2 linked regions of the Homo sapiens genome follow. The protein of the gene in region 2 purifies or fractionates together with the protein of the main gene of each other region. This does not show direct contact. Each region holds a gene or a part of one and is shown on either strand. Other genes may lie near its edges.

What was found.
Region 1: the proteins of PCDHB8 (region 2) and CLEC4A purify together in Homo sapiens (co-immunoprecipitation; one large-scale study listed by IntAct). This does not show direct contact.

What each region holds. Positions count from the first base shown.
Region 1 is NC_000012.12:8,136,362-8,139,107, reverse strand, and holds the end of CLEC4A (C-type lectin domain family 4 member A), read right to left. Parts: intron 2,321-2,746; coding exon 2,205-2,320; intron 969-2,204; coding exon 821-968; 3' UTR 501-820; downstream 1-500. UniProt on the Homo sapiens protein: C-type lectin receptor that binds carbohydrates mannose and fucose but also weakly interacts with N-acetylglucosamine (GlcNAc) in a Ca(2+)-dependent manner. Involved in regulating immune reactivity.
Region 2 is NC_000005.10:141,176,649-141,180,589, forward strand, and holds PCDHB8 (protocadherin beta-8 precursor), read left to right. Parts: upstream 1-1,141; 5' UTR 1,142-1,386; coding exon 1,387-3,792; 3' UTR 3,793-3,891; downstream 3,892-3,941. UniProt on the Homo sapiens protein: Calcium-dependent cell-adhesion protein involved in cells self-recognition and non-self discrimination. Thereby, it is involved in the establishment and maintenance of specific neuronal connections in the brain.

The DNA of each region.
Region 1 (2,746 bases), on a different chromosome or scaffold from region 2:
AGTCAATCCATAGAAACAGAGGGTAAAATGATGGTTGTGAGGGAATGGAGGGCAGTGGAGAAAATCAGGCAATGTTGGTCAAAGGGTACAAATTTTCAGTTCTAAGATGACGAAGTTCTAGAGATCTAATGTGCTGGATGGTGACTATAGTTAATAATGATGCATTGCACACTTGAAATTTTTTGGGGAGTAGATCTTGCTTTGTGTTTGTTGATACCAATGGACAGAATGGAGTAGATCTTAAACGTTCTCACTACACACAAGATTGTTAACTATGTAAGATAATGGGTGTGGGTTAAGTAACTTGATTACGGTAATCATTTTACAATATATATGTATGTCAAATCACCACAGTGTAAACCTTAAATATATACAATTTTATTTGTCAGTGTATATATATATATTATAATATATATATAAAATATAATATATATATATGTCAGTATATATATACAATTATATATCAGTATAGTAGGGATGAAGAGAAAACCAGACAGGAGGAGACACCACATCATATAATTTTATTGGTAAATAATTCTTTAGCAACCAGATAAAAATTAAGAGAGACTCATGTTCTCTCCATGTGTGCACAATGGGGGCCTCCAGTACAGGCTCTGGCACATGAAAAAATGCTCAATAAATGCTCACTTTATGAAAAAGTGAATCAGTCAATGTACAGACCAATTCTCTCATAAGTAGAATAGTTGACAGACCACCTAAATTCTATGGACCTCCCTTACACATGAATAAGAAGAGCTTATTATCTATCCCTACAATGACAGATACCAATCCAACCACCTGTTCATGGAGAATGTTCAGTTCATAAGTGGATCTTCATCATCTCACAAACTGACCTTTGAGGACCAAGACAATTAACATCATTCCAGCCCCATCTTTTGGGTGATTTACGAAAATTTAGCACAACGCAGCGCTCATTGGGATCACTGGGCTCACGTGGATGCCAGAATCTGAAAGCGACAAAAAGGATGAGGGCATTTCTTCAAACAGAGCTTTGAAAAGGGTTAGAGACAGGGGTGAGGAGCGAGGGATGAATTTCATGGAACATAGGGTCAGATATGCCCAAATCCACCTTTCTGCTACTCATCATGCAGCTTCTCCTCCATCTGCATTTCCGGCATTTCCTTTGAAAACTGTGCCTATGTCACTCAATGTTCTCTACCTTACTGCTTTGAATATCCTCACCATAGATTTTCTAGAGGTTCTCTTCTATTTGTCCATCCTTATGTCCTGTTCCTATGGGTCCATCAACCTATAGGGTGTCCTTGTATGATGAAAAGATTTTACCCTGGTCCCACTTATCAATAGAGTTTTTTCCTTTTTTTAATGCACTGTTTTTAAAGTCTAGAGAACTAGTAAAATCTTTTGAATCTTCTACTTATCCTTGTTATTGGACAAGTAATTTAACTTCCCTGATTCTCAGTTTTTCTATCTAAAAAATAAGGACTAGAGTAATATCACTATTTATTTCATACAGTGGATATGAAGATCGAAGGTGGTAATCCAGTAAAGTATGTATTTTATGTAATTTATGTAATATATGTAAAGTATGTAATTTATGCAATTAAAGAATTACATAAATATGAGATATAAGATTATCAGAATTTAGCATTTTTGCTTCATAAGAAGCATTACATCTTCAGCCTGACTGGGTGTGGTGGCACATACTTGTCATCCTAGCAACTCAGAAGACTTGGGTGGGAGGATCAGTTGAGCCCAGGAATTCAAGGCTGCAGTGAGCCATGATTGCACCACTGCACTCCAGCCTGGTTGACAGAGTAAGACCCTGTCTCAAAAAAGAAAAAAAAAGCATTATTAAATCTTAATAATTGGTTATGATCTTAATCAACATGGGTTTTCACTATGTAGAGACAGGTAAATATACGGGTTAAAAGCACAGTAAGATCCACCTGATTTGAGAACAATTGTTGACACCACTGGGTGACCTTAGCTGAATTATCTACACTCTCCAAGCTCAATTTCCTCATATCTACAGTGGGAAAAATAACAATGTGTGCCTCATAGGGTTCTTGCGCAGATTAAATGAGATAATGAAATTATTTAACCTAGTACCCAAGAGCTAAAAGAAGAGTGAGCTATTTTACTTTTATAGCTGATAGCTAGAATACCCTAAGCTCTCTGCATGATCCAGGACCCAAGATTCTTTTATCTCATTCTATACTCACGTGGAACTTTCATTGTATGGTGTCTGATCAACCCATTGCCAATGTCGCTGACCTTCTGGATCTGAGAGCCCCACAAAATAAGCAGATTCTTCTTGCAGATTCTGGAAGATGAAATCCTGAGGGGGGAAAAGAAGGAGTCACAGCCTTTACAGTATTCAGCTTAAACTGAATTCTTAATACCTTAGAGAAACAAGAAGAAAAGGAGAGGATCCAGCAACAGCTGCATTAGAGCTCTACGTAGGAATGGGGATCTCTGGCTGAGCAGGGCAGAATCAAAGACATCGCTTGTAAGCATGATGTTCAGTACATACGGAAGGAATTTTTTTTTTTTTTTTTTTTTGAGATGGAGTCTCACTTTCTGTCCCAGGCTGGAGTGCAGTGGTGCAATCTTGGCTCACTGCACCTCTGCCTCCCAGGCTTAAGCGATTCTCATGCCTCAGCCTCCCCAGTAGCTGGGACTACAGGTGTGTGCCACCATGCCTGGCTAATTTTTGTATTTTTAGTAGAGGCTGGGTTTCACCATTTTGGCCAAGCTGGTCTTG
Region 2 (3,941 bases):
AGATCTTACGAGATCTACCAATCAAACGTAATGTGTGGATCTTGTCTGGATCTTCATTCAAACATCAGCAATGACTTTGAAACACTTGGAAGAGTTTGAATATAGATGGGTATTAAGTAATATTAACTGAATTTTTTAGGTATAATAATGGCATTGTACTTAAGGGTATTTTTAGAGTCACTTAAAGTTATTATGCATTTAAAGAAATGTACAATGAAGTATTTGTGGGTGAAAATTCAGTTTGTCTGGAACGTAAAGATGTTGGAGGGATAGCGTCAAGAATTATGGCAAGACATTGATAATAGTTGATGCTAGTACTGAGTAATTGCAGGTTAATTTTACTCCTCTCCTTTTATGAGATATGAAAAATATCAAAATAAAAGCTTTTTAAAATTGATGCTATTAGAAGAGAAATAGAGGTAACAAAAAAGGACACGCTTCCCCAGAAATAAAATCACCACTGCTGTTACACATTTTGTCTCTATTTAGACAAGCTCTCCAGCCTTTCCCTGTTTACCTTCACTGTTTGACATAACTTCTCTACCTGAGATAGTCATGTTCCTGTACTATTCTACCATGTAATTTTGAGGTGTTTTTCTAGTTATAGCAATGGATTTATGCAGAGTCACCTACCTGGTGGTATCAAATTGCCATATACCGGGTACATAGTTTATTTTTAAGCTTAATCTCTCTTTGAATCAGTTTCCTCATGTGTAAGGTGGGGAAATCACAACAGCCCTATGTGGTAGGTGCTATTATTATCCTCATTTTACAGATGAGGAAATTAAAGCAGAGAGATTAAATAATTTGTTCGAGGTTCACAGCTACTAATTATTCCTATGGTTCATGGAAATAAAACTATAAAGATCTAAATGTTGCCCATGTTAACTACTATTATATTTGAAATTCTTTTTGCCAAGCTAGACTGTTACCTAAATATTTCCTTTTTGCCCAAAACTCAGTTAGCATTGTTGAAAGACTAACGCAATTTCTCCTTCGGGCAGTTGTCTGCTCAGTAACGTCCGGCGATATTAACCGTGGTGTTGTAACTTTACATAGTCCCAGGGTACATACAGGCAGAGTTGGGAATATTACATCTATTATCATCCCACAAAATGTAAGATCCTGTGAGGACCCGTGGTGGCGCTGCAGGATAAGAAGGCACAAACCAGAACCGCAGCTGCAGCTCCATTAACCGGCAAAAAGCAGCAGAACCTGGAAGTCCACGGGGAGCTTGGATGCCAAAGGGAGGACGGCTGGGTCCTCTGGAGAGGACTACTCACTGGCATATTTCTGAGGTATCTGTAGAAAACCACAGCCTCAGATACTGGGGACTTTACAGTCCCACAGAACCGTCCTCCCAGGAAGCTGAATTCAGCAAGAACAATGGAGGCCAGCGGGAAGCTCATTTGCAGACAAAGGCAAGTCCTTTTTTCCTTTCTCCTTTTGGGCTTATCTCTGGCGGGCGCGGCGGAACCTAGAAGCTATTCTGTGGTGGAGGAAACTGAGGGCAGCTCCTTTGTCACCAATTTAGCAAAGGACCTGGGTCTGGAGCAGAGGGAATTCTCCAGGCGGGGGGTTAGGGTTGTTTCCAGAGGGAACAAACTACATTTGCAGCTCAATCAGGAGACCGCGGATTTGTTGCTAAATGAGAAATTGGACCGTGAGGATCTGTGCGGTCACACAGAGCCCTGTGTGCTACGTTTCCAAGTGTTGCTAGAGAGTCCCTTCGAGTTTTTTCAAGCTGAGCTGCAAGTAATAGACATAAACGACCACTCTCCAGTATTTCTGGACAAACAAATGTTGGTGAAAGTATCAGAGAGCAGTCCTCCTGGGACTGCGTTTCCTCTGAAGAATGCTGAAGACTTAGATATAGGCCAAAACAATATTGAGAACTATATAATCAGCCCCAACTCCTATTTTCGGGTCCTCACCCGCAAACGCAGTGATGGCAGGAAATACCCAGAGCTGGTGCTGGACAAAGCGCTGGACCGAGAGGAAGAAGCTGAGCTCAGGTTAACACTCACAGCACTGGATGGTGGCTCTCCGCCCAGATCTGGCACTGCTCAGGTCTACATTGAAGTTGTCGATGTCAATGATAATGCCCCTGAATTTGAGCAGCCTTTCTATAGGGTGCAGATCTCTGAGGACAGTCCAATAAGCTTCCTGGTTGTGAAGGTCTCTGCCACGGATGTAGACACAGGAGTCAACGGAGAGATTTCCTATTCACTTTTCCAAGCTTCAGATGAGATAAGCAAAACTTTTAAGGTCGATTTCTTGACAGGAGAAATTCGACTAAAGAAACAACTTGATTTCGAAAAATTTCAGTCCTATGAAGTCAATATCGAGGCGAGAGATGCTGGAGGCTTTTCTGGAAAATGCACCGTTCTGATTCAAGTGATAGATGTGAACGACCATGCCCCAGAAGTTACCATGTCTGCATTTACCAGCCCAATACCTGAGAATGCGCCTGAAACTGTGGTTGCACTTTTCAGTGTTTCAGACCTTGATTCAGGAGAAAATGGGAAAATAAGTTGCTCCATTCAGGAGGATCTACCCTTCCTCCTGAAATCTTCTGTGGGGAACTTTTACACCCTACTAACAGAGACACCACTAGACAGAGAAAGCAGAGCCGAGTACAACGTCACTATCACCGTCACTGACTTAGGGACACCCAGGCTGACAACACATCTCAATATGACCGTGCTGGTGTCGGACGTCAATGACAACGCCCCCGCCTTCACCCAAACCTCCTACACCCTGTTCGTCCGCGAGAACAACAGCCCCGCCCTGCACATCGGCAGCGTCAGCGCCACAGACAGAGACTCGGGCACCAACGCCCAGGTCACCTACTCGCTGCTGCCGCCCCAGGATCCGCACCTGCCCCTCGCCTCCCTGGTCTCCATCAACACAGACAACGGCCACCTGTTCGCCCTCAGGTCGCTGGACTACGAGGCCCTGCAGGCGTTCGAGTTCCGGGTGGGCGCTTCAGACCGCGGCTCCCCGGCTTTGAGCAGCGAGGCGCTGGTGCGCGTGCTGGTGCTGGACGCCAACGACAACTCGCCCTTCGTGCTGTACCCGCTGCAGAATGGCTCCGCGCCCTGCACCGAGCTGGTGCCCCGGGCGGCCGAGCCGGGCTACCTGGTGACCAAGGTGGTGGCGGTGGACGGCGACTCGGGCCAGAACGCCTGGCTGTCGTACCAGCTGCTCAAGGCCACGGAGCCCGGGCTGTTCGGTGTGTGGGCGCACAATGGCGAGGTGCGCACCGCCAGGCTGCTGAGCGAGCGCGACGCGGCCAAGCAGAGGCTGGTGGTGCTGGTCAAGGACAATGGCGAGCCTCCGTGCTCGGCCACCGCCACGCTGCACGTGCTCCTGGTGGACGGCTTCTCCCAGCCCTACCTGCCGCTTCCGGAGGCTGCCCCAGCCCAGGGCCAGGCCGACTCTCTCACCGTCTACCTGGTGGTGGCGTTGGCCTCGGTGTCTTCGCTCTTCCTCTTCTCGGTGCTCCTGTTCGTGGCGGTGCTGCTGTGTAGGAGGAGCAGGGCGGCCTCGGTGGGTCGCTGCTCAGTGCCTGAGGGCCCCTTTCCAGGGCATCTGGTGGACGTGAGGGGCACCGGGAGCCTGTCTCAGAACTATCAGTACGAGGTGTGCCTGGCAGGAGGCTCAGGGACGAATGAGTTCCAGCTCCTGAAACCAGTATTACCTAATATTCAGGGCCATTCTTTTGGGCCAGAAATGGAACAAAACTCTAACTTTAGGAATGGCTTTGGTTTCAGCCTTCAGTTAAAGTAATTGATTTCATATTATATATTTTAATTTTTATGATCAATTCAAAGGAATGGTTTTCTGTCAACTTAGCATAAATTTTAAATTACACTACATTTGCCCATAGTATTTGTCTTGTTTTCACTGTTTTAAAAAATGATATCTCATCTTCTCTT